Linked DNA regions of Homo sapiens: region 1 is linked to region 2. Evidence: fine-mapped QTL for protein levels in blood plasma. Region 2 holds a variant in brackets. A gene starts in the other region. All regions are shown on their forward strands.

What was found. PIP is the posterior inclusion probability: the model's chance that the variant is causal. Protein levels are from antibody-based Olink assays in UK Biobank. Linkage for the fine-mapping came from a reference panel and not from the study's own genotypes, which makes the PIPs less certain.
Region 1: LPO starts here. The variant in region 2 is fine-mapped to the plasma level of the LPO protein (UK Biobank, PIP above 0.99).

What each region holds. Positions count from the first base shown.
Region 1 is chr17:58,237,502-58,245,501 of GRCh38, forward strand. It overlaps LPO (lactoperoxidase), which reads left to right and starts at 1,083. Exons shown (of 13, transcript NM_006151.3): 1 at 1,083-1,238; 2 at 5,477-5,554; 3 at 6,493-6,580. The coding sequence starts at 5,479. It overlaps LOC124904038 (a long non-coding RNA gene), which reads right to left. Exons shown (of 3, transcript XR_007065862.1): 2 at 7,668-7,791; 3 at 4,177-7,014.
Region 2 is chr12:11,206,202-11,222,353 of GRCh38, forward strand. The region is part of intron 1 of LOC107987435 (a long non-coding RNA gene); the gene reads left to right. Among named protein-coding and RNA genes, the nearest start is that of TAS2R42, 27 kb to the left of the region's middle. The variant A/G (reference allele first, on the strand shown) is at 6,753.

The sequences.
Region 1 (8,000 bases), not on the chromosome of region 2:
GAGGCTTATTATGTTTTAAATTGTCTGTCTGTAAAATATACTTTCATGAAATTTTGTTTTCTCGGAATCTTCCTTTTTCCTTCTTGTATGAATCTAATGAACTTGAATTTCCAAAGTCATTGAGGTAGGAAAGGTATGTAACATTATGCTTGAGCTTTAGGTCAATAATTTATACGATAGTGGTGGTTTTGTTTTGTTTCGTTTTGTTGAGACAGAGTCTCGTCCTGTCACCCAGGCTGGAGTGCAATGGCATGATCTTGGCTCACTGCAACCCCTGCCTCCCAGGTTCAAGTGATTCTCCCACCTCAGCCTCCCAGGTAGCTGGGATTACAGGTATGCACCTCCATGCCTGGTTAATTTTTGTGTTTTTAGTAGAGACAGGGTTTCACCATGTTGGCTGGGCTGGTCTCCAACTCCTGACCTCAAGTGATCCACCCACCTTGGCCTCCCAGATTCTGGAGTTTTTTAAATGGGTCACCCTATAGAAGGCATGAAGTCATAGAATCATAATAATCACCAAAACCAACCATTGATTTCAATACTAGAAAATTTGAGACACCAGAAGGTGAAGTGACTTGCCTAGAGCCATACAATGGCAGAGGCAGGGACTGCAACCCACTATGAAAGCTTAGGGCTCTTCTCACCCTTTGGTGGCCAAAAGTATTTTGAAATTTTGACCAAAAAAATTAATGTTTATTGATCACTTTAAATCCAAAAGATGAATCCACTGGATTCCACAGTAAATTGGGTGGAATGTAAGGGAGGGATCAAAGGGCAGTGAATATATGAATGGGGAGGAGAACCATTTAGCTAGGTGCAAAAGTAATTGCGGTTTTTGCAATACTTTTGCACCAACCTAATAATTGTTCATAATTCTAAGAGCTATTCGGATCCCATTAGGAGCTTAAAAGGGACAAATGTGCTCAGGGCATGCAGTTTTTGCCTTCCGGAACTAGATCAGGATCATGCATTTAAGCTAGAAAATGGAAAGAGGAGTTGCTTCACCCACAGTCAGTGCTATTGCATCAACCAATCCCTGCCATTCTGCAGTTTCCTGGTGTATCTGCCCGGAGTCACACAGTCTTTCCTGCTAAGCCTCAGCGTCTCCTCCAAGCCACATCAAAATCTTTCCTTCTGGGCCTTTCCCAGAAGTGAATTCTTGCTGGAAGGTATAAAAGACCAGCTCCTCCAAGCAGAGCAACTCCCTGGCTGCCGTGAAAAGACAAGGCACTGGGCAGGTAAGACTCGTCAACTTTCATCTTTCCTGGTTTCTGCAAAGTTGATGATGAAATTTCCTAACGTCTTCTCAGAAAGCTTAACACTGGATTTAGACTTGTCTCTATCAGGCACTTTCTGGTGCCAGCTTTAGCCACCCCATGGCACACTCCTCTTGTTTGGTATAAGAGAGAATGTAATTAAGCCTCCCCCCACCACTGTGGGGGAAAAAGGCTTTTCTGTGTCTGAAAACTATGTCAGAGAATCATAAACTCTTAGGGCTGGAAGGTACCATAGACCTCTCTTATCCACCTTGTTTAGGAACTGAGACTTAAGCAATTTAATGTGTCCAGAGTCACACAGGAATTTGGGGGAAAACAGTGACAGAATGGTGCTCCCTGTGCTGTTCTTGAGACAGTGTGATGAAATCTGGCCTCTCCACTATAGTGGAGATTTTGCAGTGTTTTAAGGGGTTCCCTAAGCCGGAGCTGTCAGGTCTTCATCTCATTTCCAGCATCTCATGCCTGCCATCTGCAGCAGATCCGACCATCTAGTTTGCCCTCAATGTCTAGTCCTAGCTGTCTTAAGTGCCCTGTGGACACCTGGCTCTCAAGCAGGTGTGTGACCTGTATGCAGCGGTAGTAGGCAGGCTTCATTTTGGGGGAATGGGGTGGTTAAATTATATTTGTTTTTTATGCAATTGTGTGCCTCAAATCTTTCAGTTGAAGTAGATTATTTCCGCTCTAGAGGGCTTGATAAGAGCTATCTCTTCATTCTCATCCTGATCTTGGAGTCACTCAAAAGATCAAGAGAGTGTTCCTGCAGGTGATGGGGCAAGAATTATGGCTTTCCTATTGGCTCACTCCACCACCCTCCACAGGGCTCTTTACAATCATGGAAGAGAATCTCACTGACTTCATCCCTTCTCAGGCCTTCCCCCTATCTCCTTGGTGACTGCTCAGCGACATTGAGAACCAAAGTCTGGAAGGCCTTGGTACTCAGAGTGTGGTCTGCAGACCAGCAACATCATCATCACCTGGAGCTTACTGGAAATGCAGACTTTCAGGCCCCTTCTATGACCTTCTGAGTCAGAATCTGCATTTACCAAAATCCCTAGGTGATAGTAGGCACATTACAGTGTGAGAGGCTTGCCGAGGGACTATCTCTGCCCTCTCCCTCTGCAACCTCCAGATGCTGAATTTCTCTGCTCTAGGAGTTTTATTCATTCAGCATGCACCCAACACCTATTATGTATTGACATGCTTAGGTCCTGGGAAAACAAATAAATAAGATGGAGCCCTTGAGGAGTTCATGGTCTGATAGGGGAAACAGATGTGAAGACAGTAATATGAGATATGGATGAAATACTGTGGGAGGACAGAAAAAGGAACGATCTAACTTTTCCTGGAGAAAACTGGTAAACTTCACAGAGGAGGTGAAATTTGGTCTGGGTTTTGAAGAATGAATAGGAGTTTATTAGCCAGAGAGGGTATTGTATAGGGAAGAGCATGAGTAGAGGCATGGGATTGTGGACCAGCCTGGCATTTGAGGGGCAAAGGCTGTGGCTCTGTCTCCAGATAGTGCTTCATGTCCCAGGGAAGGCTCCAGGCTTTGCTGCAAATCAAAGGGCTTGGGAAATGGTTTCTGCACTCAGCATGTTGATAAGAATATGGATAAATATCTACACATCACAGGAGCCTCTTGTTGGCCTCTTACACTCTAAAGCCCCAGGCCCTCTTGCCCTGTGTGGTTCTGGCTGAAGACAGTGTCCCTCTAGAATCTTTCTGCACACCCCCTTTTCAGTGACATGACCTTGTATTCACCTGGCTCTGATTTTTGTTCATACCCGTCCCTCACACCCACCAGGAACATTGCCCAAGACATGGGAAAATAATTTCTCTCTGGCCTTGAAGTCCCCCTCCTCCACTTTCCAGTGAGGAGAGCATGAAGGGGGTCCTAAAGAAGAGGAGAGGAGAATTGAATATTTAAGTATTGTTTCCTGTTCAAATTTCTCAACTTTCATGTCTTCTTCTATGATTTTGTCTTCCTCAGGCTGTCTCAGATGATGTCTTTTTAAAAAATGGACTAATTTTTTACTTTGTGTTTGTCATTTATTAGGAAACGCATTAGTCATTCAAAGAACAATATAATGAATGTTTGTGCCCACAGCCCTCTTTAAAAAAATCAGTGATATGGTGGTTGCCAGGAGCTAGGGGGAAGGGGAAATAGGGAGTTGGTGTTCAATGGGTATAGGGTTTCAGTTTTTACAGGATGAAAATGTTCTAGAGATCCATTGTGCAACATGTGAATATACCTAACATTACAGTACTGTAGAGTTTAAATGACTAGGATGCTAAATTTTATGCTATGTGGATTTTTGTTGTTGTTGTTCTTTTCTTTTCTTTTTTCTTTTTTTTTTTTTTTTTTTTTTTGAGCCAGGCTGGAGTGCAGTGGCGCAATCTTGGCTCACTGCAGCCTCCACCTCCCAGGTTCAAGGGATTCTCCTGCCTCAGTCTCCCGAGTAGCTGGAATTGCCGGTGTCTGCCACCACGCCTGGCTAATTCTTGTATTTCTAGTAGAGACAGGGTTTTACCACATTGACCAGGCTGGTCTCCAACCCCTGACCTCAAGTGATCCGCCTGCCTCAGCCTCCCAAAATTCTGGGATTACAGGCATGAGCCACCACACCTGGCCATGTTTTTTACCATAGTTTGTTTTTTAAAGTCAATGATACCTTTTCCTCCAAAACCATCATCTCTGTTTGTCTGAAGGGCAGATTTCTGCTAACTCAATGAACCCTGCAATGGGTCCCCTGAAGTTGCAAAATATGGTGACAGAGGGATAGGAGGTCACAGAATCTCTTCCTCCTTGGGGCCATACAACTATAAGGACAAGAGCCCACTGAGAGGTCAAGCTGTTTGAGAACTCATCTTGGGGTGGGGGGAAGTAACAGAGAGAATCTTGGCCAGAGAGGTATTTATTCATGCCTTGCCCCTTCTCTAGAGTTAGCTGGCAAAAAGTACAACAAGATACAAATTATTAGGGGGACCACGAAAGGGCAGAGGGAAAAATTGGAGGCAGGCAGGGGTGAAGGAGGCTGAAATGACCTGATCCATATACAGAGGTCTCCTGGTCTGGCCTATTCCAAAGGGAGATGATTTGGAGAGGGTCTGCAAGACATACGGGGAAGTCTGTCAGGCAAAGCTCCAGAACTATGATTTCTCTCTGGGAGCTGAGCCCTGGGGAGACATGGCTGGGGGGCAACCTGAGGCTGCTCTCCTTAGTGTGCTTCTGGATTCCACCAGTGAACGCCGTGCTGCAGGGAGAGCACAGGCGCCCTTGTGAAAGCTGAGGAGCCTCTCAGGACCATGGTCTAAACACACAATCATTCCATCTGCACGCTGTGGCTGCCACCCCGGGCTGGAGCCAGAATCTCCTCAGAAGATGTATGGGGTCTGCTCCACTAAGCCCAGTGAAGACCCTCATCAGAAAACAAAGCTTCACAAATTTCAGTCTAAAGATTTGCATTCAGAGTTAAAGCTCATGGCAAAGAGGTTAATCCATGAGCTGGAATCTTTCCAGGCAGCCTGGGGCACAGCTGTGGGCTCAGGGGAGCTCTGAGCTTTGTCATAACTTTCTTTCAGTATTGCCATCAAGTTGGCACTTTGAGGGAAGGGGAAGCCCCTGCCAGGTTTCCGAAGGGAGGCGCTGAGTGTCTGCCTCTCAGGCATTCTCTCCTGGGGCTGGGCCAGAGGAAACTGGCTTGCAGGGAGCAATGCATCCTGCAGGGAAGGAGGGAGGGGAACTCAAAGGCAGGCTCCAGCCTTGGTAACAGCGTTTCTCACACCTGTGACAAGACAGGTACAGCATCTCCCGACCACAGGCTGTCAGGGCAGAATTGAACATTCTGGATCACTTGGTCCCACCTCCTCCCATAGCAAGCCAGGACCCCAGAGATGTTAAGTAACCTGCCCAAGGTCACAGAGCTATTGGAGCAAATGCAGAATGATAACTCAGGGCCTTAGATCCTGAAGCCTGAGTTCTTTCCCTTCCACCATGTCTTCTCCTCTTTCCATCTCTCCCAGTACCTAGCACAGGCCTGTGTGTATGGTAGATGCTTCATTCGTTAATGTGGTTTCTCCTTTCCTGTTCCAATATTAGGGTGTCTGGTGCTCCTTTGGCTTTCTCTGCTTTCTGTGGTTCAAACCCTCCCACTTGGTCTCTAGAGAGGCTCACAGTGTGATCCTGCATCTCGTTTCAGTGATGAGGGTCCTTCTCCATCTCCCAGCCCTCCTGGCTTCCCTCATCTTGCTTCAGGCTGCAGCATCTACCACAAGAGGTGAGTGTCTCCCTTTACGGGTTTTCTGGGGCTGCTGTCACAAAGCACACCAACTGGATGGCCTAAGACAACAGAAATGTATTCTCTCACAGTACGGGAGGATAGAAGTCCAAAATCAAGGTGTTGGCAGGGCTGTGCTCCCTCTGAAGGCTCTAGGGAAGAATGCTTCCTTTCTTCTTCCAGCTTCTGGTGGCCCTGGTATCCTTGGTGTTCCCTGGCTTGTAGCTGCAACACTCCAATCTCTGCCTCAGTCTTTGCGTGGCCTTTTTCACTGGGTGTCCTCTCCTCTTCTCATAAAACCACCATTTATTGGATTTAGGGCCGATGCTAAGGCAGTATGACCTCATTTTAATTCATAACATCTACAAAGACCCTACTTCCAAATAAGGTCACATTCTGAGGTTCCATGCAGATGTGAATTTTGGGAGGGCCATTATTTAACCCACTACACTCTCCTTGTTGAGAAAACAGATCCTGTCCTCCATGCTCCAGACCCCAATACAAGAGGGAACAGGGAATCCCACCATTACTCTCATGCCATCCCCTTCTGTACGTCAGGGTCCTGGTGATCAGTGGGTCCTCTTTGATGAACTTGAGATAGTCCACAAGACCATCTCACCAGGAACCAGAGAAATCCCCACAGTCCAGTAGCCCAAGCCACCCTGAGTGGCCACACTCCCTCTTCATCCCATCTCTGGGCATTCTAGTGAGATCTCAAAGAGCAATTTTGACATCTTGTTGAAGATCCAAGAGTATTCTTCCCATTCTGTGCTTTTTCCCCTTAAGGACTCTTATGAAACTTTCCTAATCTTGATCTCCTGCCTACCCAGATTTGAGGGGTGGGGGTAATGGCCGAGAAAGAGGGAGACAAAAGCAGAAGACATCGCAAAGGAGTGGTGTCTGACACCCTACTTCCTGCTCCCCACTCCAACCCCAAGCGCAGACTACCAGAACCTCTGCCATCTCCGATACTGTGAGTCAGGCCAAGGTCCAAGTCAACAAGGCCTTCCTGGACTCCCGAACCAGGTACGTGAGACACACACACACACACACACACACACACACACACACACACACTTCCCTTCACAGGCTTCCTGTTCATGACAAGCACATCTAGGCCAGCCCGGATGAGCCAATGAGGTGAACAATGATAAAACTTACCCTTCCATCCTCCTAGCCCTCCAAGTACATGACAAGTAGGAGCAATAGCCCACAATTCCTAAAGTCCTCAGCCTGTACATCACCTGAAAGAGGACATCTAATCTAACCCTAGAAGGACTTTCTTCCACGTGGCCCAATGTTTCCTTGGGCCATGCATTCCAGAGTCCCAGAAAGCCTCTCAGTAAAAGTTCTTCATTCATCCAGCTGATATTGACTGATTCAGCCAGGTCCACCAGAAGCCGAATCCGAGCCCTGCATTCAGGTGCAGGTGACATATTAGGGGAATGCTCACAAGGAAGCTGTGATGGGGTGAAGAAGCAGAAGTGAAGGGGGAGGTTAGACAAATAAAGTGGCTTCAAGTCTATCCTCAGCCTGACCCCACAGGGAGACCTGGAGCAGAAGTTGCTCCTCAGAGCCTGTCCCATCTTGGAGCGAGGGAGCAGAGCCCTCATCTGCCCACATCAGTCAGACATGGCTGCAGGCTTGCAGGTGGCTGAGAGGTGTTGTGGCACACCTGTGGAATTCCCGGGCACCCCCAGCCAGGCCACTCCAGTGGCTCAGAAGCAGGCGCCCAACAAGGTTACTGGAGTGAGCCTGTAGCAGATGCACCCATGGCAGCAAGGGGAAGAGCCCAGGGCCCACAGGGCACCAGTAGAGTCAACTGCCCTCCGATCCTGTACAGGGGCAACGTGGGCGCCTTCCCTCAGGAAACGCACACTCTAGGGAGAGGGCAGACATTGAGAAAAAAAGTAACCTTATTCTTTCCTCTCGCTGTCCCTTTACACTGGACCTGGGCTTCCACTCACTCCTCCTCAGCCCTTGAATGAACTTTCAAGCCGTCAGATAACTTTTTTGGTGACTTAGATGATAAAACACGCTCTGGACGCTTCTAGTCCCCAGACCAGGATTATCTCAGGAATTAAAGTGTCAGCATAAGAAGATAAAGCCAGACCTGCTCTATTCCTTCAGCTCAGAACTGCTTGAGGCCTCTGGCGGGAGAAGAGAGTGCAGTCTCCTTCTCCCTCTTTCTGGGGCTCCTCCTTCCCAGCTTGGGTTTCTGCTCCTTGGGGGTTAAGCTGAAGGAGGAGGGAAAAAGGGGTGGTGAGTCTACATCCCCTGAACAGTTCAGTCCTCAAGGGGCCGGAAGCTCTCTCTCTCTCTCTCCCCTTGGGTGCTTTCCTGGTTTCAGAGAGAGATTCTGCTGCCAACTCTGTGATCTGGAAAATTCTCTGGCCAGTGGCTCCCAGCTCTAACCCTCTCTGCCTGGGAGCATCGGGCCCACTCC
Region 2 (16,152 bases):
AAGATTTGCATGGGGGGAACTGCCCCCATGAGTCAATTACTTCCCATCAGTTCCCTCCCAAGACTTATGAGGATTATGGGAACTAAAATTCAAGATGAGATTTGGGTGGGTTTGGCTCAAGATGAGCCAGACCATATCATGAAGTTATCAGTATGAATTCAGTTTTTAATAGAGAAGGAAAAAAAAAAAATATATATATATATATATATATTTTATGTGTTTCCTAGCTCTGTCTGCCTAAAAGAAAGAATATCACAGTTAATAATGAGCACCTTTACCTCCCAGATACTGTTTTCGAAATAGCATTCTGCACTCTAAATAGATCCCAAAGGATCTAGGGATCCCTGGAAAAATAGCTGATTTCAGGCCTATGGCAGTAAAAGCACAAGCTAATTCTTGATTCTTTTTTGGGATGCAAAATAAGGATATACTATAAAAAAAAAAAAAAAAAGACTCAGGAGCCAGCTTGAAGCTCTCCCATTGGCCAAATGCAGGATAATTTGAACATTAATAGTATGAATATGTCATAATACCAATGAACTATAGAATTCCATAATTACATAGAATTCTAATAATTATAGAATTAATTTTCTCCAAATAAAATATGAAGCTAAAAATGCAAACTGGAATAAATGATTAAAGGAAATCTACTTTATAAAGCCAATTATTGAATGTTGAAGAAATGATACAGTTAAAAAATAACTGTTTCTTACAACTATCATAGTAATTAATAATTTGCTTAAACAAGAATCATCAATGGATGCTAAAATTAATAGGTGAAATTTTAATGCTAAGCAGAGTATTTGCATAGTCTCAAAGTTTTTCCCTACAAATTACTTTTAATTATAAACACGGAAATAGTAATTTTAAAGCAGAGAAACCTGACAAACTCCACATTAACCAAGAGATCAAAGCTAACATCACCAATATTGAGACAAACCAGTATCATCTACCTTCTGATACTGATTCACTGAAAAAGAAACAGTATCACTCTTGTGGTGTTTTTCAAAAAAAAGAAAAGAAAAGAAAAGAAAAACCTAAATCTAATCATGTGGAAATCTCAGGGATACACAAAATCAGGAGATGCTCTAAATAACAACTGGCATATCCTTCAAAAATGTCAAGGTTATGAAAGAGACAGGACGGCTGAGAAACTGATCCAGATTAAAGAAAACCACAGAAGCATGACAAATAAATGCATGGCATGACTCCAGATTGGATCCTGGACCAGGAAAAATAATTTGTCTATAAAGGGCATTATCAGGACAATTAACTAAATTTACATTTGACTGTGGATTAGATAATGAGTGGGTCCTGTGTTAAACCTAAACCTATTGCTTTTGATCATGGCATGTGACGATATAAGAGAATGTCTTTGTTCCAAAATATACACATCCAAGTATTTAGGAGTAAAGGAGCATCGTGTTGCAACTTACTCCCAAATGCTTTGAAAAATATATATGTGTATATGTGTGTGTGTGTGTGTGTGAGCGGGAGAGAGAACACAAATGAGATGGCAAATGGGGCAAACTTAACAATTAGTGAACCTGGGTACAGGCTAAGAGTAGTTATTCTTACTATTGTTGTAACTTTTCTGTACTTCTGAAATTATATCGGGACTAAAAAATTACCAAAAAGTTGTTTAAACATGACTGAACTAAATGTTTGCTATAATACTTCCTCAGTCTAAAATCCATATGGCTAGGATTCTGATTTTCACCTCCTTTTCCTAAAAGGAGTCAATGCAAGTATAACCAGACAGTGCGAGTATAACTGACAAAATATACTCCGAAGACAACAGAAGTCTCTCTATTCCTATTTTCTATTTTTTGAATTCAATGCGCTACAGATTTTGTGATTGCAGGCTTCAGTTTTCTCACTATATAATCCTAAATAACAGTGGAGGTACAATGTCACAACATAGCTCCTGCCTCTGGTATAATCAGCTATAGAAGAGAAACTAAGAGAAACTGCTGGCACTAAGAACCATAGTTTGAAAAACTGGCTTCAGTTTCAACAACCGTAATTTTTAAGCCTTTATGTGTTTATTTAACTCTCCCGTGCACTGAAAATTCCAGGTTTGGTATTAGACAAAATATCTCTGAATTTCCTCCATCATCCTGACCCTATAGACCAAATAGTTTAATACCAATGAAATATAAAATGTACATGTAGAAATGAACTAGAAATTTTTTATTGGAATAACTAATGTTTTAATTTATATAAATTGACCCAGAGAAGACTCTCATGGCCCAGGGTAAGAGTATTGTTTGATTTTTTTTAATTTCTAGTCAAATGTTTCCACTTAGCACAGTAATCTTCATCCTCAACTCTCATGGTAGAATAATAACAACAACAATAATAATAAATAGCATTGCCAGGCACTGTTCTAAGTGATTTACAATACTGATTAATTTAAGTCATTAAATTATTTTATGGGTAATGTAATTAATGTGTTCTAACAATCAGGCCGGGCACGGGGTGGTTCACGCCTTTAATCCCAGGACTTTGGGAGGCCCAGGTGCGTGGATCACCTGAGATCAGGAATTCGAGACCAGCCTGACCAACATAGTGAAACCCCATCTCTACTAAAAATACAAAAAAAATTAGCCAGATGTGGTCGTAGGAACCTGTAATCCCAGCTACTTGGGAGGCTGAGGCAGGAGAATTGCTTGAACCTGGGAGGTGGAGGTTGCAGTGAGCAAAGAGAGTGCCATTGCACTCCAGCCTGGGCAACAAGAGCGGAACTCCATCTCAAAAAAAAAAAAAAGTATTATAACACTCCTTATTTTATAGAAAAGAAAAACCAAAGCACACAAATGGTTAGGTAAGCTGCCCAAGGTCACAAAGCTAGTAAGGTTGGGTCTGGGATTCAAACACAGACCCTCTCGCTCCAGAATCTGGGTTCCTAATACTTGTAAAATGCCACATTTCAGGCATCAGCAAGACCTTTTGCATATTACTTTCTTTTTTATCTTCCACAGAAACCCCAATGCTTGACTAAGAGGCTGATATTTGCAGCTGAGTATATTGAATTCTTTCCTCCTACCTGGGGAACAGGCGCCCTCTGTGTCCTAAATGCCACATTCCCATTGTGCTTTGTGTCAGATCTAATAGACCAATCCCTGCACAATCAGGCAAGCCAGAGTCAGTGAACTGGATTTCTACTCTGTGCCTCCAGATCTTGATGTCTGCTGGCACTTTGCTTTGTTCACTCCTTTGGGAAAAGAATAAAAGGGTAGGGCAGGATGTTGAATACCATGGAAAGCAGTGGGTGGTGCCTGGAAGTGAGAACAGCTTCTTTACTACCTATTTCTCTGAACCTTAGCTTCTTCCCTTACGATAAATAAATGCATTTAGTACTTAACAGCTTACTAGTGGCTTTTATGGGCAGTTTTCTTAAAATGGAGCATAAAATTCTTAGGTCACAAAATTACATATTAAGAAACATAGATTATGTAAAAATGATTGTAAACTTTTAAACTATGTACAAATATTAGTTATATTAACAGTCATTAACACCCAGGTCCAAGACCAGGAATTAAGTAATAATTATTTCTATCTTCTGTGAGATCATTGGAGCAGAAGTGGTTACAAATTGATACCTTGCATTTAAAGATTAAGAACCTATCAGATAAAACAAAACATCCTATTGGACTCCTTACTTTCCCATCATCAAAAGCCAGAAGACTAGTACAGACAGACTGCTAATCACTATTTGGGCTCATAAGTAAAACATAAAGAGTAACATGAAATAATCCTGTGTTTTTTTTTTACTCTATTAAAATGACAGCAAATTCTTAGGCAAACTCTACAGTTTCCATTCGTTGAAATTAGAAGAACCTGCTTGGAAGTAATGCAAAACTTGGGTTTCTAAGTGAAGAAGCACATATGAGCCAAAAAGCTAAGGGGACATTTAGAACTTGGTAAGAAATCTCTGTGGCTCTAGTGAGAGACCTTCATGGCCTTACTACAAGGCCACTGAAGCTTTAGTGTGAGAACTTTATGATCTTTACAAGGAAGGTTTCTAAGGTCCTGGTGTGAGGTCCTCTGTTACTGATGTGAGACCACTGTGGCTGGCATTACCTTGACTCACTGAAACTTAGCTTTGCATTTCAAAGCTCTTGGAAAAGGTATATAATGTTAGAGAACTAGCACTTCAGTCCCATTAAAACCCACAACAAGAGTACCATTTCAGATGGATGAAATGATTTTTACCTCCTGTAATATTTCTCAGGGAAGACCACAAGCCAAGACTATAAGAAGAAGCAAAGACCTAGAATAGCCACCATAATACTGAAGAAGAAAAAAGTTGAAAGGTTGGAATGATCAAAATCCAGAACACTGACAACACCAAACACTGGTGAGGATGTGGAGCAACAAGAACTTTCCTTCATTGCTGGTGGAAATGCAAAATGGTACAGCCACTTTGGAAGACAGTTTGGTGATTTCATTTACAAAACTAAACGTACCGTTACCATATGATCTAGCAATCACACTCCTTGGTATTTATGCAAAGGAATTAAAAACTTATGCCCACACAAAAATCTGCACATGAATGTTTGTTTATATATCCTTGTCAAAACTTGGAAGCAGCCAAGATGTTCTTTAGTAGGTGAATGGATGAATAAACTGCAGTACATTCATACAATGGAATACTATTCAGTGCTAAGAAGAAATGCACTATCAAGCCATGAAAAAACATGGAGTAAATCTAAATGCCTATTGCTAAGTAAAACAGGCCAATCTGAAAAGGCTGTATGATTCCAACTCTATGACATTCTGGAAAGGTTATAACAATAAAGACTATAAAAAGATCAGTGGTTGCCAGGGGTTAGGGAAAAGGAAGAATGAACAGTTAAAGCCAAAAGGATTTTTAAGGCAATGAAAATACTCTGCACGATACTATAATGGTGGCTATATGTCATTATAAGTTTGTTCAAATCCATAGAATGTACAACATGAAGAGCATATCCTAATGTAAACTGTGGATTCTGGGGGATAATGATGTTTTAATGTAGGTTCATCAAATGTAACAAATATACCACTCTGTTAGGAGATATGGACAATGAAGGAGGCTATGCATGTGTGAAGACAGGGAATCTATGGAAAATCTCTGTACTTTCATCTCAATTTTGCTAGGGACCTAAAACTGCTTTAAAAAATAAAGTCTTTATTACAAAAATATTTTTAAATAGGCAAAAAGATCTAAGGAGACACCTCAACCAGAGAAGATATACAGATGGCAAATAAACATGAAAAAGTGTTCCACGTTGTATGTTATTACGGACTGAAAATTAAAACAACAATAAGATATCACTATATGCCTATTAGAATGACTAAAATGAAAAAAAATCTGACAATACTAATTACTGGCAAGGATGCAGATAAACAGGAACTGTCATGTATTGCTGGTGGGAATGCAAAATGATAGGATCACTTTGGAAGACAGTTTGGTAGTTTCTTACAAAGCTTAACCTAGTTTTACTATGTAATTCATCACGTGCACTCCTAGCTATCCACTCAAGTGATTTAAAAACTTATGTTTCTGCAAAAACCTACATGCACAAGTTTATAGCAGCTTTATTTATAATCATCGAAAACCAGAAGCAATCAAGATGTCCTTCAACAGGCAAATGAATTTTAAAAAACTGTTGTGTACACATACAGTAGAATATTATTCACTGAGAAAAAGAAAGAAGCTATTGATCTATGAAGGAACATGGATGAATCTTAAATGCATGTTGTAAGTGAAAAGAAGCCAGTATAGAAAGGGTACATATGCTATGATTCTAATTATATGATGTTCCACCATGATTGCTAGATCATATGGTAACAGTAAGTTTAGTTTTATAAAAAAATCACCAAACTGTCTTCCAAAGTGGCTGTACCATGTTGCATTTCCACCAACAATGAAGGAGAGTTCTTGTTGCTCCACATCCTCACCAGCGTTTTGTGTTGTCAGTGTTCTGGATTTTGGTCATTCCAATCTTTCGACTTTTATTCTTGCTCAGTATTATATTGACTATTCTAGGTCTTTGGTTCTCCTTATAAATTAATAATCAACTTGTAAATATTTGCAAAATGTTTGCAAAACTCTATAAAGAAGATTAAAAATAGAAGGTTAGTGGTTTCCTGGAGGGAGGGAGAGAGGAGGGTTGAATAGGTGAAGCACTAGGGATTTTTTAGGGTGGTGAAAATATCCTGTACAATATTGTAATTGTGGCCAAATGACACTTTGCCAAAACGCATTGAACTTTGCAGTTCAAAGAGTGAAAATCCATATAAATTTTAAAAATCATTTAAGAGTTTGGGAGAATGTCAGGATGAAATGCAAAATGTGACAATATAATTTCTTTATTATTTATTTATTTTTATTTTTATTTTTATTTTATTTTACCTTTTAAATTTTTTATTATTATACTTTAAGTTTTAGGGTACATGTGCACAATGTTCAGGTTAGTTACATATGTATACATGCGACATGCTGGTGCGCTGCACCCACTAACTTGTCATCTAGCATTAGGTATATCTCCCGATGCTATCCCTCCCCCCTCCCCCCACCCCACAACAGTCCCCAGAGTGTGATGTTCCCCTTCCTGTGTCCATGTGTTCTCATTGTTCAGTTCCCACCTATGAGTGAGAATATGCGGTGTTTGGTTTTTTGTTCTTGCAATAGTTTACTGAGAATGATGATTTCCAATTTCATCCATGTCCCAACAAAGGACATGAACTCATCATTTTTTATGGCC[A/G]CATAGTATTCCATCGTGTATATGTGCCACATTTTCTTAATCTAGTCTATCATTGTTGGACATTTGGATTGGTTCCAAGTCTTCGCTATTGTGAATAGTGCCACAGTAAACATACGTGTGCATGTGTCTTTATAGCAGCATGATTTATATTCCTTTGGGTATATACCCAGTAATGGGATGGCTGGGTCAAATGGTATTTCTAGTTCTAGATCCCTGAGGAATCGCCACACTGACTTCCACAATGGTTGAACTAGTTTACAGTCCCACCAACAGTGTAAAAGTGTTCCTATTTCTCCACATCCTCTCCAGCACCTGTTGTTTCCTGACTTTTTAATGATTGCCATTCTAACTGGTGTGAGATGATATCTCACTGTGGTTTTGATTTGCATTTCTCTGATGGCCAGTGATGGTGAGCATTTTTTCATGTGTTTTTGGCTGCATAAATGTCTTCTTTTGAGAAGTGTCTGTTCATGTCCTTCGCCCACTTTTTGATGGGGTTGTTTGTTTTTTTCTTGTAAATTTGTTTGAGTTCATTGTAGATTCTTGATATTAGCCCTTTGTCAGATGAGTAGGTTGCGAAAATTTTCTCCCATTTTGTGGGTTGCCTGTTCATGCTGATGGTAGTTTCTTTTGCTGTGCAGAAGCTCTTGAGTTTAATGAGATCCCATTTGTCAATTTTGTCTTTTGTTGCCATTGCTTTTGGTGTTTTAGACATGAAGTCCTTGCCCATGCCTATGTCCTGAATGGTAATGCCTAGGTTTTCTTCTAGGGTTTTTATGGTTTTAGGTCTAACGTTTAAGTCTTTAATCCATCTTGAATTGATTTTTGTATAAGGTGTAAGGAAGGGATCCAGTTTCAGCTTTCTACATATGACTAGCCAGTTTTCCCAGCACCATTTATTAAATAGGGAATCCTTTCCCATTGCTTGTTTTTCTCAGGTTTGTCAAAGATCAGATAGTTGTAGATATGTGGCATTATTTTTGAGGGCTCTGTTCTGTACCATTGATCTATAGCTCTGTTTTGGTACCAGTACCATGCTGTTTTGGTTACTGTAGCCTTGTAGTATAGTTTGAAGTCAGGTAGTGTGATGCCTCCAACTTTGTTCTTTTGGCTTAGGATTGACTTGGTGATGTGGGCTCTTTTTTGGTTCCATATGAACTTTAAAGTAGTTTGTTCCATGTACAAAAATCACAAGCATTCTTATACACCAATAACAGACAAACAGAGAGCCAAATCATGAGTGAACTCCCATTCACAATTGCTTCAAAGAGAATAAAATACCTTGGAATCCACCTTACAAGGGACGTGAAGGACCTCTTCAAAGAGAACTACAAACCACTGCTCAATGAAATAAAAGAAGATAGAAACAAATGGAAGAACATTCCATGCTCATGGGTAGGAAGAATCAATATCGTGAAAATGGCCATATAACTTAATTGTATCACAGTTAGTATAAAAAACTCTCACTGAAGACGGTAGGGACAAAAGTGCTGGCCTACATAACTTTGAAAATAAGTGGAGTCTGTAAAACTAAAGGTCAAAGAAACTACACATAAGTACTGCAGTATAGTTAATAAAGTTGTTTCTCATAAAGTTATTGGTTAACGATTCTGATGTTTTTACACATGTATACCAAAATTAAACAATTAATAAATGGATGGCAGATCATGGCAGGCAGTTTCTCACTGTTGGAGCAGGAGTTTGCAGATAAGCAAGGGGGAGATGGAATGATCCATGTACTAATGGATCAGAGTCGGAGATGTCAGTATGAACTTAAGTTTAGCTTAATATGGATATATATAAACACCAATTATTTCTACATAAAGAAATATTTCTGTATAAGTACATAAACACAGGTTACTAAGGGACTAGAAGCAAAGACACACAAGAGCAATGAGCATACCCAGATCTTGGTTTCTGATGCCACTATCTGAAAAAAGAAACTAGGACTCCTTAGAGAAATGGCTGATTCTACGACTGGGGCAGGAAATATACAAGATGAACCTGAAATCCCTTGTAGAACCAGAAAGTGAGGAAGGGCTCATTAAAAAGTGGGGGGAGTGGGGAGAGACAAGAGATGAACCTCTCATGCAGAATAGTTCTAAAGAATTTGTATGAATACTCAAGGAAGTGGAACATAACTCTCCACTCCTTACACTTGGAAAGAGGGAGGGAAAGAATAACTTTACAATGAAAAAGACTTTCAAACACTGTCTCCTCTGGGTGACGAAGGACAACATAGAAAGGGACAAGTTATGTTGATAGTATATACTCCTGATGTGACATGATGAAAATGGCACATTAACTTTGCCTCTGAGGTCTTTCTAATCAAAAATCCCATAACTCCAGTCTAATCAAGAGAAAATTATCAGACACATCTTCACAAAGAGACATGCTGCAAAATACCTGACCAGTATTCTTTAAATCATCAAGGTCATCAAAAGCAAGGAAAGTCTGAGAAACTGTCACAGCCAAGAGGAACCTAAGGAGACCCAACATCTAAATAAAATAAATAAATCCCCGTCCAGGATGGGGTCCTGGGACAGAAAAATACATGAGGCACGACTAAAGGAACCTGAATAAGATATGAACTTTAATTAATAATAATGTGACAATTGGTTCATTAATTGTAACAAATATACCATGGTATTGTAGGATAGGAGAAACTGAGTGCAAGACACATGGGAACTCCATGTGCTAGCTCCACAATTTTTCTATAAATTTAAAATTGTTCTAAAAATAAAGCTTGTTTAAGAAAATAAAAACAGGGGGATGGCAGCTAGATGCTAGGCTACAGACTATCAATGCATAAGATTTTAATCCCTAAATCATTAGTCCCTGCATCGTTAGGACTTAACCTGCATCAGTTTCCAGGGCGAAGGAAACTCGATGAAAGGAAACTTCTTACATTCATATGCCTTGTCACACTGTGAGTCACACTCACCAAATGGTCTCTCCAATTTACTGATTATATTAATACTCCTAAATTACTCATCTATACCTTCACCCACTTAAAATAATTGGGTTTTTTATTAAATACAGTATGTATGTTATTTTCTTGGGCTGAAACAACTCAATTAAATTACCACTAACTCAAAAGGAAATCAGAAATATAAAAAGTTTCATTCTCGGAATACTGTCTCTGGGAGAAAAAGGCGGGTTTTCGGTTTTTGCTTTATTTTAGTTTGTTTTTTGGTACTCTTCAATGTAACTATAAGAATGGAAGTCATGGGAGAATAAAGGGAAAACAAGAAGGCCTGGTTACTGTTGTGGAAGAAAGACTTTCTTAGGAGAAAGGTTGAGGAATTTACTAGAGAGCAATGTCAGGAAAAATGAGAATCTGGAGGCCGGGCTAGGCACACATCAAAGGAATCTGCATCTAATTACTCAGAAAGAAGAAACTGAAAAAGAGAGGTTTTTGTTTCTAGATTGGAAAGGGTGACTACTAACATCCAAAAAAGTAAACAAATAACAGAAAACTAACAGAAGAGACCCCTCCCCAGGAACTAGTTATATAAAGTGGGCACATATTTGAGAAGAGAAAACCAGGAAAATTAGCCGAAATAGTATTACGTGATTTTCAGATTCACATATATGTTGTAGGTAAAGATGCAGGTATTTCCAGTGTGAGAGAGAAACATAATCAAGATATTTGAAGAGTCAGCTCTCATAGAAAAGAAACAATGAAAATGAGATCTACTAAGGCTAGCAAGGGGCAGGAGTAATATATGAGGTCAAGGTTTAGGTCAGATGCTGTTCTGATAGAATAATTCCTAAGTGGCATTACCCACAGTGGGGAAAAGTTGGACAAAATATGTTTGAATAAAGCCTCTTTTATTAGAACTAGAATTTATCAACTTCCTATCTCTCACTGTGGAGAACTCCATAAACATATTTAAAGAAAGTATTTAAAAAAAACCACCTGAGAACGTGAAAGCAAATGGAATATTAAAGGAATTTGAAGGCATTATATTCCAACAAATAGTTACCCATAAGATGGTAGAAAAGGAAATAGATCACATTTAGAAATAGTTTGAGTTTATATATCACCTGACCATGCCTAAAATGAGTAGGCGAGTACAGCATGGAGACCATAATTTAAAATATTGTATTGAATACTTGAAATTGCCAAAAGGACAGATCTTGAGTGTTCTCACCACACATATACAAAAAAAAGGTCACTATGTGAAGCGATGGCTATGTTAACTAGCTAGATTATGGTGAGCATTTCACAATGTATACATAAATCAAAATAGGAAGTTGCACACCCTAAATATATACAATTTCTATTTATCACTTATACCCTAATAAAGCTGAAAATATTAAAATATTTTAAAAAATACATATAAAGTTGATTTTATTTAAGTACAAAAATAAAATGAAATGAGTGGGCATTCGTGAGGGGGCTTTAAACTGTAGAGGAATATCTCACCAGCAGGAGACAGGTTGGGGAGATGTCTTCAACCTAAATTTTACTCTCAAACTGGAACATTCAAAAGCAGAGGAAGACAGAGTTTTGAGGAGCCAATGGCAGAGATGTTGGCCTTGCTAGGCCCTTTGGGGTTATAGGATTCAGAAGCAGCAACAGAGTATACATTGGTTTTAGAGTGAGGGGGTTTATCACAAGCTTGAAATGTTTCTGTGTGGGGGAGAAGTTTATGTTGGGGTCAGACTGTCTCTGGGTGGAGGGGAGATTATCTCGGGTCTGGCATGCCTCTGGTAGGGGAGAGGTTTGGAATTTTTTTGGTCAGAGATATTATTTGTGGTTTATGGTCATGCTGACCTTAGCCAGAAGGCTGATGACCTTTGGATTTAGGCAGTTTTTGATCAAGGTGAACTTAAAATGACAGTGCTTGTCCAAGATGGCAATACTCCTGCTCTGTCACCAGCGATAACAGGTTTTTTAAAAATATTGCATTACAAACACATTTAAAGGAAATTTTACTATTAGGAAATATATTCACTTACAGGCAAACAGGATTTCTCTTCTTGCCTGAGAATACATGCTCCAGCTATCAATACCATTTAGTGTGGACACCCCTCATCAACACTAAGTTTTACCAAGCACATGAGGAAACATGCATCACTTACAGGACTTACTCAAAAACAAATCCACCTCCAGCCCCAGAAAGCAGACATAAAAAGAGACACAATTTTTTTCTTATTAAAATTATATTCTCAGGGATACTAAATTTAGAAAAACAAGCTATCACTGTAGAAGGAAAATAATTTTAATAAATTGAGAACATTGTTTTAAAGCACATGGTCTATGATTCACATTACATGACTCTGTGCAAACAACCCCAGGTACCAGCCCGGAGCCTGGTAGACCTGCTGGGTGGTTAGATCCAGAAGAACAATAACAATCACTACAGCTCAGCTCTCAGGAAGCCACATCCCTAGGAAAAGGGGAAAGTGCTATGTCAAGGGAACACCCCATGGGCAAAAGAATCTGAACAACAGCCTTGAGCCCTAGACTTTCCCTTTGACATAGTCTACCCAAATGAGAAGGAACTAGAAAAACAATTCTGGTAATATGACAAAACAAAGTTCTTTAACACCCCCAAATAATCACACTAGTTCACCAGCAATGGATCCAAACAAAAAAGAAATCCGTGATTTACCTGAAAAAGAATTCAAAAGGTCAGCTATTAACCTAATCAAGAAGGCATCATAGAAAGGTGAAGTTCAATTTAAGGAAATCAAAAAATGATACAAGAAATGAGAAGAGACATCTTCAGTGAAATATATAGCATAAATAAAAAAACAATCAAAACTTCAAGAAATAGTGGATGCACTTTGAGAAATGCAAAATACTCTGGAAAGTCTCAGCAATAGAATTGAACAGGCAGAAGAAAAAACCTCAACCTCAAAGATAAAGTTTTTAAATTAACCCAATCCAACAAAGACAAAGAAAAAATGAACAAAGACTCCAAAAAGATTTGGATTACATTAAATGACCAAACCTAAGAGTAACTGGTGTTCCTGAGGAGGAAGAGAAATCTAAAAGTTTGGAAAACGTATTTGGGGGAATAAATGAGGAAAACTCCACTGGCCTTGCTAGAGACCTAGATATCCAAATACAAGAAGCTCAAAGAATACTTGGGAAATTCATCATAAAAAGATCATTGCCTAGGCACATTGTCATCAGGTTATCTAAAGTTAACACAAAGGAAAGAATCTTAAGAGCCACAAGGGAAAAGCATCAGGTAACCTATAAAGGAAAACCTCAAGGGAAAAGCATCAGGTAACCTGTAAAGGAAAACCTATCAGATTAACAGCAGGTTTCTCAGCAGAAACCCTACATACTAGAAGGGCTTAGGGCCCTATCTTCAACCTCCTTAAACAAAACAATTATCAGCAAATAATTTTGTACCCAGCAAAACTAACCTTCATAAATGAAGGAAAGATACAAAGGGAAATCTATCAGATTAACAGCAGATTTCTCAGCAGAAACCCTGCAAGCTAGAAGGGATTAGGTCTCTATCTTCAGCCCCCTAAAACAAAACAATATCAGCCAAGAATTTTGTAGCCAGCCAAACTAACCTTCATAAATGAAGGAAAGATACAGTCTTTTTCAGACAAACAAATGCCGAGTGAGTCACCACTACAAAGCCAGCACTACAAGAACTGATAAAAGAAGCTCTAAATCTTGAAATGAATCCTGAACACATCAAAACAGAACCTCTTTAAAGCATAAATTTCACAGGACCTATAAAACAAAAATACAACTAAAAAAAATTAGCATGATAAATTAAACAGTTCCTCACATCTCAAAACTAATATTGAATGTAAATGGTCTAAATGTTCCACTTAAAAGATGCAGAATGGATAGGAATTCACCAATCAATTATCTGCTGCCTTCAAGAGACACATCTAACACATAAGGACTCACATAAACTTAAGGTAAAGAGGTGGAAGAAGACATTCCATGCAAATGGATGCCAAAAGCAAGCAGTAGTAGCTATTCTTTTATCAGACAAAACAAACTTTAAAGCAACAGCAGTTTAAAAAGACAAAGAGGGATAAAAGGCCTTGCCCAACAGGAAAATATGGCAATCCTGAATATGTATGCACCTAACTCTGGAGCTCCCAAATTTATAAAACAAGTACTATTAGACCTAAGAAATGGGATAGACAGCAACACAATAATAGTGGGGGACTTCAATACTGCCCTGAGGGCACTAGACAAGTCATCAAAACAGAAAGTCTCAATGGATTTAAAAGAAAGTCACAGAAAGAAACAATGGATTTAAACTATACCCTGGAATAAATAGACTTAACAGATATTTACAGAACATTCTACCCAACAACCTCAGAGTATACGTTCTATTCAACAGTGCATGGAACTTTCTCCAAGATAAACCATATGATAGGCCACAAAACAAGTCTCAATAAATTTAAGAAAATTGAAATTATATCAAATACTCTGTCAGACCAGAGTGGAATAAAACTGGAAATCAACTCCAAAGGGAACCTTCAAAACCACGCAATTATGTGGAAATTAAATAACCTGCTCCAGAATGATCATTGGGTCAACAATGAAATCAAGATGTAAGTTAAAAATTCTTCAAAATGAATGACAGTAGTGACACAACCTATCGAAACCTCTGGGATACAGCAAAGGTGTTGCTAAGAGGAAAGTTCATAGCCCTGAATGCCTACATCAAAAAGTCTGGAAAACTTTCTAAGTCTTTCTAAACAATCTAAGGTCACACCACAAGGAACTAGAGAAACAAGAACAAACCAAATCCAAACCCAGCAGAAGAAAGGAAATAACCAAGATCAGAGCAGAACTATATCAAATTGAAACCAAAAAAAAAAAGATAAAAGAAACAAAAAGCTGGTTCTTTGAAAAGATAAATAAAATTGATAGACCATTCACAAGATTAACCAAGACAAGAAGAGAGAAAATCCAAATAACCTCACTAAGAAACAAAACAAGAGATATTACAACTGACACCACAGAAATACAAAAGATCATTTAGGGCTACTATAACACCTTTATGCACATAAACTAGGAAACTTAGAGGAGATGAATAAATTCCTGGAAACATACAACCCTCCTAGCTTAAATCAGGAAGAATTAGATACCCTGAACAGACCAATAACAAGAAGCAAGATTGAAATGGTAGTTTCAAAATTACCGACAACAAAAAAAGTCCAGGACCAGACAGATTCACAGCAGAATTCTACCAGACATTCAAAGAAGAATTGGTACCAATTCTATTGATATTATTCTACAAGATAAAGAAAGAGGTAATTTTCCCTAAATTATTCTCTGAAGCCAGTATCATCCTAATACTAGGAAAGGACATAACCAAAAATGAAAACATAGATGCTAAAATCCTTAACAAAATACTAGCTAACTAAATCCAACAACATATCAAAAAGATAACCCACCATGATCAAGTGGTTTCATACCAGGGATGCAGGGATGGTTTAACTTACACAAGTCAATATGTAATACACCACACAAACAGAATTAAAAACAAAATCGAAAGATCATCTTGATAGATACAGAAAAGGCATTTGACAAAATCATTTTATGAATAAAACTCAGAAAAATCAGCATACAAGGATCGTACCTCAATGTAGTAAAAGCCATCTATGACAAACCCACAACCAAGTTAATACTGAATGAGGAAAAATTGAAAGCATTCTCTCTGAGAACTGGAACAAGACAAGGATACCCACTTTCACCACTTTTATTCAATATAGTACTGGAAGTTTTAGCCAGAGCAATTAGACAAGAGAAAGAAATAAAGGGCATCCAGATTGGTAAAGAACAACACAAACTGTCACTGTTTGCTGATGATATGATTGTATACCTAGAAAACCCTAAAGACTCCTCCAAAAAGCTCCTAGATCTCATAAATGAATTCAGCAAAGTTTCAGGATACAAAATTAATGTGTGCAAACCAGTAGCCTTCCTATACCCCAACAGCGACCAAACTGAGAATCAAATCAAGAACTCAACTCCTTTTACAATAGCTGCAGATGTATATAGGAATATACCTAATCAAGGAGATAAAAGACCTCTACAAGGAAAACTACAAAACACCGCTGAAAGAAATCATAGATGACAGAAACAAACAGAAACATATCCTATGCTCATGGATGGGTAGAGTCAATATTGTGAAAATGATCATACTACCAAAAGCAATCTACAAATTCAATGCAATTCCCATCATAATACCACCATCATTCTTCACAGAACTAGAAAAAAATCCTAAATTTCATATGGAACCAAAAAAAGCCTGCATAGCCAAAACAAGACTAAACAAAAAGAACAAATCTGGAGGCATCACACTATCTGATTTCAAATTATACTATAAGGCCATAGTCACCAAAACAGCATGGTACTGGTATAAAAATAGACACATAGACCAATGGAACA